2 separate regions of the Homo sapiens genome follow, and region 1 is linked to region 2. Evidence: fine-mapped expression QTL. A gene starts in region 2. The other region holds a variant in brackets. All regions are shown on one strand. Distances are between the middles of the regions.

Region 1 (5,369 bases), 45 kb after region 2:
ATTTTTTGTCATTTTGTCTTTTCTGAGTCAATAGGTAGTAAAGGTACAAAATACTATCACGTGGAGATTTATGAAATGTTGGGACATTTAAAGGAGACTCACCCTTGAGGTCCTGAACTGTCCTCATTCCATGTCATTGACAGGACTTGTTCACTAGGACCACCCCTCTGCCAGCAGAGCTGGGCCTCACCTTGGTTTTGAAGCTCTCCACATCATCAAAGCCCACCCACTGGTTGTCCCGGAAGATGTAGGGCACCTTCTGATCCTGGATTCTCTGTTTGGTGGCCCCCTTCCAGGAGCAGACCTGTGGGAGCAGAAGGCAGCACTGGGGAGGAGGAGGGAGGCTCTTGCAGGCACCTTCCCTTCCTCACCAGGAGGAGACTAGAGATTGGAAAATTCCTGTCTGAGGAAGCCTGGAGAATCAGGAGGTTCTTTGCAGTGACCTAGAATTCTGGACTCAGCTTGAGGCACCTGGGCTTAAGGATAAATTCAAGATGGCATGGATGAGATGGAATTTACATGGCCAGAATTCTCTGCAATTGGCATCCTTACTCAGAAACGGTGGGAGAAGGAAACCTCTGTTCTCTCAGGCACCCCCTGACCCTCACAATACCCAGGGTGGTTATGGGTTTTCCTACTTCATAGTAGGCCAGCATCCCTCCTTCCTTGGTGAAGGGGCCTGGAGTGCCAGACCCTGTGGCTGGGGCCCCCACTCTGGTGTCTGATGAGGAGGCCAGTGTGAAGGAGCGTCCGTAGGTAGGCATGCCAAGGATCAGCTTGCTGGCAGGGGTCCCCTTCTGCAGCCACTGTTGCACAGCAGCATCCTGGTGGAAGAGGGCAGGGTTAATTTTCTCAGCCCTCAGCCTGGTTCTGATTATCTAAGTCTGGGGGATCCAGAGGCAGAGCTAGGAGGGCAGGGGCTCCTCAGCTGGAGCTCTACGGGCCTTTGTTAGGATTCCAGCCCTACCCCATCTTCTTTAGAGCCTGCCTTAGACCCGTGACCCCAGTGAAGAAGCTGCATGGCATGATAACCAGAGAGCGTGGGCTTCGGACGCAGACAACCATTCACTGAACAAATGTGTACTGATGGCCCACTGTGTGCCAGGCGCTGTCCATGGTGCTTCAGACACATCAGTGAACAAGGCAGACACAGATCCCTGCCTTACCCAGCAGCTTATTTAACCTCACTGAACCTTGGTGTTCTGTCTGTAACATGGAAATAAGGAAAATATCCATCTCTTAGGGCATTGTGAGAATTAAAGGTTATAATGCATGTAAAAGGTCAGCACAACGCAATAAAGGGTCGCTGTGGTCATCATCGTTATCATGATTGTTGTCTTAGTTTTACCCTGAGTACAAAAGCAGGGAATTGGGTCTGCTTTATTTATCTCTGTATCCTCAGTGTCTAGAATGACACCTGATGCTCAGATAGAACAAAGGCTTCCTTACCCACCTTTGAATAAGGCCTTCCCCTGATTATATATTACTTGGTGTAACACCCCCAGGCCTGTGACGGGAGAAGGTACCCGGTACAAGTATGATAAATTAATGAATAATGAAGCCTCATTCCTTAAGCCAAGAGTATGGTTCACTTTCCCCCAGAAGCTGCCCTAGTTTTGTCAGGTCTAGTTACTCTGAGCCCACTTAGCACTTAGGTAAAGAACAGCTTTCACTACATTTATTTAAATATATTTCTTTTTGTCCATCTATACAACTTATCTTTGATCAGATGGGTGCTTTCTGAAGGCAGAAGTCGGGGCTTCTCCTGATCTGTTATAGCACTTTTGTGCAAGTTGGGAAAAGTCACCCATCTGGTTAGAACCTGTCCCCGGGCACACTGTGTGGTGAGTAGAAGGCCTCTTTGTAGGAATAAGATGGCCTCCATTCCTCGGTGGATTCAAGGTACACAATGTGGAAAGCAGGGTGCTGGAGGGACTCCCACCCCACTCACCTCTCAGCTAAATTTCTTTCTGTGTCTCCCCACCAGCACAGGGATACAGCTTCCTCCAAAACTCACACAGTCTTCCAGACAGGGATGGAGAGGCCAGGCTCAGTGTGAAATGTGGGTGCCTGGCTCACTGGCTCAAAGAGGTGCTCTTTATTCATGAAAGAGCCAGAAAATCAAAGATGTCCCACTCCAGCTGACATACAGAGATGTGGGCTCTCCAAAAGTAAAAAGCATTTTAATTTAGGGCTTTTTCTTTGTTGTTTGGTTTTGCTTGTTTTAAGAAAGAAAAATAATGTAGTTATTATAAGCCCTCTCTGCAGGGTTTTATAAACCCTCTCTATATTTTAAGATATATAGAGGGCTTATAAAAAGGATCTAGGCTGGGCATGTTGGCTTGTGCCTATAATTCCAACACTTTGGGAGGCTGAGCCAGGAGGATTGATTGAGGGCAGGAGTTTGAGACCATCCTGGGCAATATAGCAAGACTCCATCTCTACAAACTTAAAAAAAATTAGCTGGTCATAGTGATCCCAGTTACTCAGGAGGCTGGGGCAGGAGGATCGCTTAAGCCTGGGAGGATGAAGCTGCAGTGAGCTATGATCATGCCACTGCATACCCTCCTTGGTGACAGAACAAGATTCTGTCTCTTAAGAATAAATATATAAAATTAAAAAAAATTAAAAGTGTCTTGATTGCTCAATGAGGAAAAGTTAGGAAACCCCAACCTACCCTAGTCTAAAAACCAAGCCTGCCCTTTGCAGGTGCTGGGAGTACTTCCACCCTGAGTGACATCTGCAGAGATGTTATCAACTTGGGAAAGCTCCTGTCCCTGAAAGGACCTTCCAGAAGGTCAACCAGTGTGACCATGGAGCACAAGTCTGCCCACTGTCTTGAAGGAAATGGGGTGGGGGTGTGTGAGGGAAGCAGCAGGCCTGCTGGCTGGAGACTCAAGCTCAAAGTGGGCTTCCCCATTGGTCACTTGTTTGTCATCAAACTGATTTGCTGCCTCTACCATCAGCCAAGATGCTCCACAGAAGTGAGGTTTCCCCTCAGCAGGGGCACGGACCAGGAAAATAGAACAAAACAAGCAAGCAAAGAAACAAAAAAGCTTCTTGTTTCTCAGTGCCCTGTGTCTTTTTTCCCATGAGGGCCTCGGGGCT[C/G]AAAAGAAGCCACCAAACAGGGCCTGCTGGACAGGGGAGTCCTGCCTCAGCCCTCCTGCCACACGTACCACGTTGAGGCTGGCTGCTGCACCACTCTCTTCTTGCCTCTTGTAGAGGGGGCTGTTATGTCCCGTGACCTTCTCCCAAGAGCCATGGAAGTCGTAGGCCATAAGGTTGACAAAATCCAGGTTCCTGCAGGAGGCATGGAAGAGGAGGTGAGAAACAAGGGATTGGGGGTGGGGTAGCCCTTCTTTCTCACTCCTACCCCCTCAGTGCATGGCCTAGGGAGGAACCACTGGGGTCAGAGGCAAAGGTGGCAGGCTCACCTGGCTCTGCAGAAGGTGACCCAGACAGCAGTCCCAGCCAGCCCCCTTATGAAGGCCATTCTCATTCTCACTCAAACTTGTCACCCTCACCCCACTGTCCCCTCAGCACCCCCAGGCCCTCCCTATTCCACTCAAGAAAACTCCTGCTACATTGCTATTCTGGAGGGAACTCTAGCTTAGGGTTTCTCCCACTTCAGTGTGCACACAGATCACCTGGGAATCTCACTAAAATGAAGGTTCTTCAGAAGGCCTGGGGTGGGGCCTGAGAGTCCATAATTCTAATGAGCACCTGGTTTTAATGAGGGCTGCGAGTCCACATGCTGTACTTTGAGGAGCAAGGATCCAGAAAACCCATTTTCTTGAAGACAATGGCTTCACTACCCACTCAGAGGCATTTTCACCTTAAGAATGAGTTCCCGAGGAAGAGGACAGAGATCCAAAATGAAGGATCTGGAACAGGGCAGCAGTGGACACTGAGCAAAGCCTTTCTGGATGTGTCTTAGTTTTACCCTGAGTACAAAAGCAGGGAATTTTCTGCTTTTGTTCTGGTGTAAGGATGGGACTTTCCAAATGCCTTGTAGATGAACACCTGCTCTACCCATGGGAAAGCTCAGTCTGCCCTTGGCCTCTCTTCCCTCAGAGAGCACAGCTCCAAGCCATCTGCCTGAGACTCACTGGGCGATTTTGTCCACCTCGTATCCAGCATCCACATAGGTCTGCCCAGCTGGAACCGCTGCACTCAGAAGAAGGCGTTCCTTCCCTGAGGTCTGGGCTTCCTGCTGGAAGGCATTGGCCAAGTCCTGTGGGAGTGGAGCTCAGAGTCAACACAGGGGCGCGCACCAGGCAGGCAGCCCCTGTGAGCCCCAGGTAGATGTTCACTTGTAGAAGTCTGAGAGCTGGCCACAGGGCTGATCTGTGCCATGCAGATACGTGAAGCAGCTGGCTCTGGGGGCAGAGCAGCCCCCACATGTGCTGTGGGGGCTCCAGCTCTGGGTCCCTGCACAGACTGGTGATCCCCGCCCCGCCCAGCCATACCTGTACCAGGGTTGTGAAGCGCTCCTTGTCTACGGCAGGGCTCCCCTGGCTTCCTGGGTACTCCCAGTCAAGGTCAAGGCCGTCAAAGCTGTATTTGCGCAGAAACCTGATGGCCGAGTTGACAAAGGTCTGACGGTTGTTGGCCGTGGCTACCATATCTGTGAACCTGTGAGGTGATGAAGGGGAGTAAGGGCCGGCCTTGGACCAGACAGGAGGCCACTCTTACTCAGAAGCAGGCAAGAAAACACTCAGGACAGTGCGTCTCTGTGTCTGGGCTAGGAGGGGCACTGGGAGGGCTGCTTCAGAGGCTGCAGGGATATTTGCTGGTGAGTTATGGTCCGGGTTGAGGAAAGGGGACCATCCAGAGCACTTTCTACCCCCGAACATCGACATCACCAGGGGCACATGGACACCCTAGGAGCCTTTCCCAAAATTCCCTCCAGAGGCTTCCTCCAAGCCCTTGAATTGTCCCACCCCAAACCAGAACTAGTTGACACCCTCAGAATGGAGGTTTGAAAAGAAAAGGAATTAGTTTCTCTAATTCCTCTTGTAAGGTTTTTCTTTAAGTAAGATTTTTCTCTAATTAGAATTTCTCTAATTCCTTTACTAAGGTTAGTAAAGACCTGGGGAGCCCACTGTTTTAGTTTCCTGGCAGGTTAACCTGGTCATCTTTCTTTTAACTCACACCCGTAGAGCGCTTTGTGTTTTTGTTGCTGTTACTAGTCCAGAGTTCGTCAAAATCCCCAAGCTGCCCCAAGAACCACCTCTCCACATCTTCCTTCCTTAGTGGGAAGTCCCTGAACTTCTTGAGGGGGTCTCAAGTTCTTTACAGATTGATCCTATTTTATTTTTATTAATTTAGTCCGAGGACACCAGGCTAAAAACTCCTGCTGCATTTCA
Region 2 (5,369 bases):
AGAGACCTCAGATCAGACCAAATGACTCACTGTCATTAACAGACTGAAACCCGATCAGCTCCGGGAGGGGAGCGAGGGGAGGATTGAGGCTAATGCACCTTGCAAATAGAAATATTAGCAATGGGGATGGCAGCTGGCCTGCGGGGCCCCAGTGAGGTATGCCCTCTGCAATGGAGAAGTCTTCATGGGCCTTTTGCAGACCTTCTTTTTCTTTCCACTAGGGCCATGGTGGAACAAGGGGCAAGCAGCGCCTTCTCTCTGTTTCAAGACCTTTGAGAGAATCTGGAACCCAGGCCACAGGAAATGGGCAGAAAATGAGCATTTATGGCCACTGGAGAGATTGAGATTAGATGGGAGATAGAACAGATGGACTCTTAGCATTGAGCAGGTGACCCAGGGAACTTGACCTTTTGTTTCTGAGCCCCTTTCTCAAGGCGTGGGGGCTGGACCACTCAGGGAAATGGCTTCTTAGACCTCCAGAGGCCCCTTACTGCTGAGGAACCTGGAACTTTCTTAAGGCAAGATGGTGATAGCGTGTGGCTTGTGCATGTGAGCGTGGGACGGGGGAAATGACTGCCTGGTTCCCTCTACCTGCTGGCCTCAGTTTCTCCATTAGATAAGGTGTTTGGGAAGGGCTGGGTAGCTGAAGGCCAGGATGGGCTTTACCAATGTTCTCTCGGATGTGGATGGGCTGGTCCAGCATGGCCGGCGGGCCAGCCCCTGCAGAACTCACTGCAGACACGCGCAGGAGGAACTTGTCTCCCAGAGCCAGGTTCCGCACAGTCTGCTGGGTCACCATCATGGGCCGGGCACTCACAGGCACCCACTCCGAGGCTGAGGGGATGGAGAGAGTGTGAGGTCTTTGCAATGTGGCCACAGGCGCCCCTCTCCATGGGGCTTCTTTTCCTGCTGGTGATCTGGGGAAATCAGCCTCCCTCTCTGGGCCTCATTTTCCCCTTGTTTGCCTTCCCTGACTTCTTGTCAAATGGCATCAAAGACACCTGATGTTAGAGCCCTGAAATTGTGGCTAGAGATGAGGTTGTTGAAGCCCAGAGAGGGTTGGACACATTTGCAAAGTCACACAGCAAGGTAGGGGCAGAGGCAGAGGCCAGGCTGGACTTGGGCCATGGAGGGGGACAGTGGCAGCAGGGATGTGGCCCCCACACCCCCACCCCATTCCCGCTTTCTCCTCACTGTCTCTTACGCTAACATTCCCCTCTCCAGCTCCTCCCTTTCCACTTCCTACAGTTCGGGGTCCTCTGAGACTTAGCACTTCCTTCCCTTCTCACCAAAGGAGAACCCAGTGTCCCCTTACCCTTCCCTTACTCAGAAGCTCCTTGGAGCTGAGGACAAGGGAGCCCCTCAACCCACCCACCTACCCTTTCTTGCTCTCCTGCTGGTGGAGCAAGAAAGGGCAGGTGGGTGGGTTGAGGAGCCTACTGCTCGCATCCCCTCCTTCTGTATCTCTCCCAGACTGACCAACCACAGGGCCTGTGCACTTGTCCCTGCAGCCCTCCATGACAACCTCCCCTGGGTGTATGCAAGACTTAGCCCAGCACTCACCTCCCTCTCTGCAGAGCTCCAGCACATAGCCCTGGAGGCCCAGCCTCCCCAGCCTCTCTGGGGGCTCCCAGCTCACAGTCACAGAGCTGCTGCTCACATCATCCAGGGTCAGCAGCAGTGGGGCACTGGGGACATCTGGGGAGATGAAGAGGTTCATGGCCAAGAGCTCCCCTCCACCCCTGACATGCCTGCCTCCCTCCTCCCCCTGCCCCACCTTCAGTCACCTTCACTTGGGGGTGCAGGCTTAGTGGCTGTGGAGGCTGTAGGGGCCTGTGGGGCAGGGGCCTGCGGCTTGGGCACCTGCTCTTCTCTGGTGGACTCTGATACTGCCACTTCTCCGGGAGGCTCTGCTGTGGGCACCTTGGCAGATTCAGATGCGGTCTCCTCTGGACTGCAGGCAGGGCCCTCGGAGGTGTTTTTTTCCATCATTGCTGGACTGGCTGGGGGGCCAGGGTGGAGTGTGCAGGGGTCAGCCGTTGGGGGGCCTGGGCCTCTAGGGTGCCTGGGACACCTAGGTCCAGGCTTATATAGTCAGGGGCTGCCCCACCCCCAGCAAACGATTCCCAGCTGTGGGGTCAGGTCAAGCAGGAGGACTGGAGGGTGGAGAGGCGCCCAGGCCAGGAATAGCTCTGGGGGAGGAACCACAAGGGCCCCTTGAGGAGTCACTTCCTCATCCATCTCCCCGACTGGCCTTCAACAGCCAGGGTGCTGGTGCCCAGCTGGGGGAGGGCGCAGATGGGTGAGATGGGACATCGAGCAGGCCGCGTGCCAGGTGTCAGGGCAATAGGAGGAAGAACTTCTATCTGGAGAATGAGCCCAGCTCAGGCTCTGTGTGTCTGGCGTCTATGGGGCCACTTGTTCCCAGAGCTTCTCAGACTGGGTGCTGGGGCCCTGACAGTTTGGGACAATCGTCCTTGTGAGCACTCCCAGCTTTGCCTCTGGGGTCCACATTCCCTGGGCTCCCACAGTTCCCAGGGACTCTCGCCTGTGCTGTATGAGGCTGAGGGCCCTAGAGAGGGAGGGAATTGAGATGCTGAGGGTGGAGCTGCTCAGAGGATGGTCCTCCAGCATTGGAACCCCAGGAAGGGGCACTAAGTCTCCTGGCTCCTGTCTCAGTTGGGCGGCTGGTAAGGAGCTCGTCTCCCCTGATGCCTGCTGTGGGCCTCAGTTTTCCACCTGTTACAGAGAACCCCTCGCCCTTCGGGATGGGTTGCAGTTGTAGGCAGATCTGGAAGATGCCCTAGTGGAGGAGAGCACTCTGAAGCTTCTAGACTCTTCCAAGCAGGCTGTGGGCATGGGCTTTCTCAGTGTGCCAAAGGAGGCAGATATGGCCAGATTTCTAGTCATTGATTCATTTGTTCGATAAAATGTTAAGACTGGGAATCACTGGAAAGCCAGAAAATGCCATGTGTCAGGAAGGAGGGAGAACATTAAGAACTTTTATTGCTGGTATTGGAGCAGTCACTCTGGAAAATGTGAGAGTTTTACTAGTGCCTAGTAAAATGGATGAGGTGCCTACTCCGTGACCCAGCCGTGCCGCTCATATAACACCCACACATGCCCCAGGAGACATGGAGAAGAAGGTTCATGGCAATGTTATTTGTAATTGTTGAAATGTGGGGGAAAACAGCTGTCCCTCAACAGTGGGATGGATAAATAACTGTGGAGTGTTTATGCAACTGTAAAGCAAAATATGGGGTCAAATGAGCAACTTCAGCTACTCACAGACCCAGTGATGAGCAGAAGAGCAAGGCACACAGAAATGTTGCGTCTCATCTGTCTCATCTACATTAAATCCAAATGCAGTCAACACCAGGCTCCCTTCTTCAAGGTACATCCGTAGGCGGTAAGGCCAGAAAGGAAGATGAGGCCAGTACAAAAGTTAGGATGGCGATTGCCTCTAGGTGGAGGAACAGGGATATCTGTGATCGTGAGGGCTGCAGGGGTGCTAATGAGGTTTCCTTTCCTGACCTGGGTGGTGGTTACACAGGTTCTTACTACATAGTTATTCTTCAAATTAAACAAATACATTTATGCACTCTTTAGCACGTAAGATGTGCTCACAATTTAAAAATAAGTAAAAGTGATTTATTCAGGGCCCTCAGCAGCATGCATGCTCTTCCCTTTCCTGAGGACTGGGGACACCAGGGTGTGGCTGCCTCTCAACCCTGCTGTCTCTGCTGGGGAGTGGCAGTGCAGGGCCTGGGAGCCTCTGGATCTGGCCCTCCCTGGATGCCCTCGCCCTCTGCTAGGTGACTCCACGTCTTGCCAGGCAGGGAGTGGGTCCTGGAGACTGGATCTCCATCCTTGGCCTCTGACTCTGCAGCTATAAGTGAATGTGACTAACCCCACAGGACACTGAGTCAGCCCTGGAGAGCCTGTCCCCGGCTGGGGGAAGGGTGGCCCCAGGGGAGGGCAGTTGGCTGCCCACAAGGGCTTGCAGCCCTGGGGTTTCAAAGATGCCTGTGTGGTGGGGTGGGCAGTGGCAGGGATTAGGGAATACTTGGCCCCACCAGCCAGAGGTGAAATGCCGGGTACCCCCTCCCCACACCCCACTCCACGCCTTGCCGAGTCCTTGTTTTCTTCGCCTTCAGCAGGGCTGTGACCTTGGGATCAGTAGCATCTGCCCAGCTCCAGCTGGTTCAGATTTCAGATATTTCCTCCTTCCCTCCACTTCAAACCGGCGTCACAAACCATCAGGCCAATTTGTGATTATCCTAAGTCACAGATAATCCAAACATCAGAGAATCCACAAATCAATTCTCTTTAGTTCTGGGGTGAGTATCTGGAGCCTTTTTGGATAAAGGCATTCCTGGGGCCCTGGGAATTCAACAGAAGCCTGATGAGAGCGTCTCCACCTCATAAAGGCTGAAAATCTGTCTATTCTTCTGAGTCACCCCATCACATCCTCCCGACCTCCTATCTCAGGCCAGCTTGAGCAGAGGTACTTTGATCTCTGAATGGGTGGAGGGATGAGTGTTAGGGGAGGGGTGAACAGAACAAAGGGCTAAGCCCAGCACTAGGACTATTGACAGATTTCAGCCCAGCCACGGAATGGGTTGCTTCCAAGGTAATCGGCTGCCCCTCACTGGGAGGCTGGAGGGCCATCTCTCAAGCACTCTGCAGGGACTCCAGTCCCGAGAGGCAGGAAGGGTGCATGAGATGACATCTGCATTTCCTGCTGGCCCTGAGGGTCCAGGGTTCAGGGCTTTCTAACCTGGTCCTGTGATGAGCTCCCACCACCTTCCTGTGGATCAGAAGAGAGGGAGTGTTGGGATGAAAAGCCTTCTTTCCCAGGGCCTGCTAGCCTTCAGGAAACAGAAAACGTTTCTTTCAACAGGGAATTTAATTTAGAAATCTGGATGGCAATGACTTTAATATTTGGAAGGCCATCAGCCATGCTTGGGTTAAGTCCAAGGCAGGTGAATCTGAGGACGCTGGCCTCCCACTGGGGCTCTCTGCGGCTAGGCAGAGGACATGGCGGCCTCATCTCTGCAAGCTCAGGGGTCCCAAGGCTCAGAGGAAGGAACCCAGAAGAGATGGGGGAGGTGAGTCCAGTGGGTCTAGTGGGCGCTCAAAGATAGACCAAAGCAAAGCGCCAACACACTGTTAAGCTCTTGTACTTTATTGAGCAGCTGTGGAATTAGGAAGGGGAAGTAGGATAGGGGACACGATTACGTTCCTAAGTGAAGGTTTCAAGCTGGGCTTTGCAGGGGGTATAATTAGTATGGTCACTGTGTCTTGTAGGATGTTTGGCTCCTTGGTGATAGAGCTTGCCAAAATGGTGTCCTTTGATAAGGAGGGCT

Evidence for each region. PIP is the estimated chance that this variant, and not a neighbour inherited with it, causes the effect.
Region 1: its variant is the best candidate, but not a certain one, in a credible set for the expression of MYBPH in whole blood (TOPMed, PIP 0.66).

Annotation. Positions count from the first base shown.
Region 1 is chr1:203,219,026-203,224,394 of GRCh38, forward strand. It overlaps CHIT1 (chitinase 1), which reads right to left. Exons shown (of 11, transcript NM_003465.3): 5 at 4,470-4,635; 6 at 4,110-4,234; 7 at 3,177-3,300; 8 at 639-824; 9 at 191-304. Among named protein-coding and RNA genes, the nearest start is that of CHIT1, 8.0 kb to the right of the region's middle. The variant C/G (reference allele first, on the strand shown) is at 3,109.
Region 2 is chr1:203,173,764-203,179,132 of GRCh38, forward strand. MYBPH (myosin binding protein H) reads right to left here and starts at 2,063. Exons shown (of 11, transcript NM_004997.3): 1 at 1,788-2,063; 2 at 1,564-1,698; 3 at 667-834. The coding sequence starts at 1,992. CHI3L1 (chitinase 3 like 1) reads right to left here. Exons shown (of 10, transcript NM_001276.4): 10 at 5,168-5,369. RefSeq lists enhancers at 198-727, 3,645-4,844.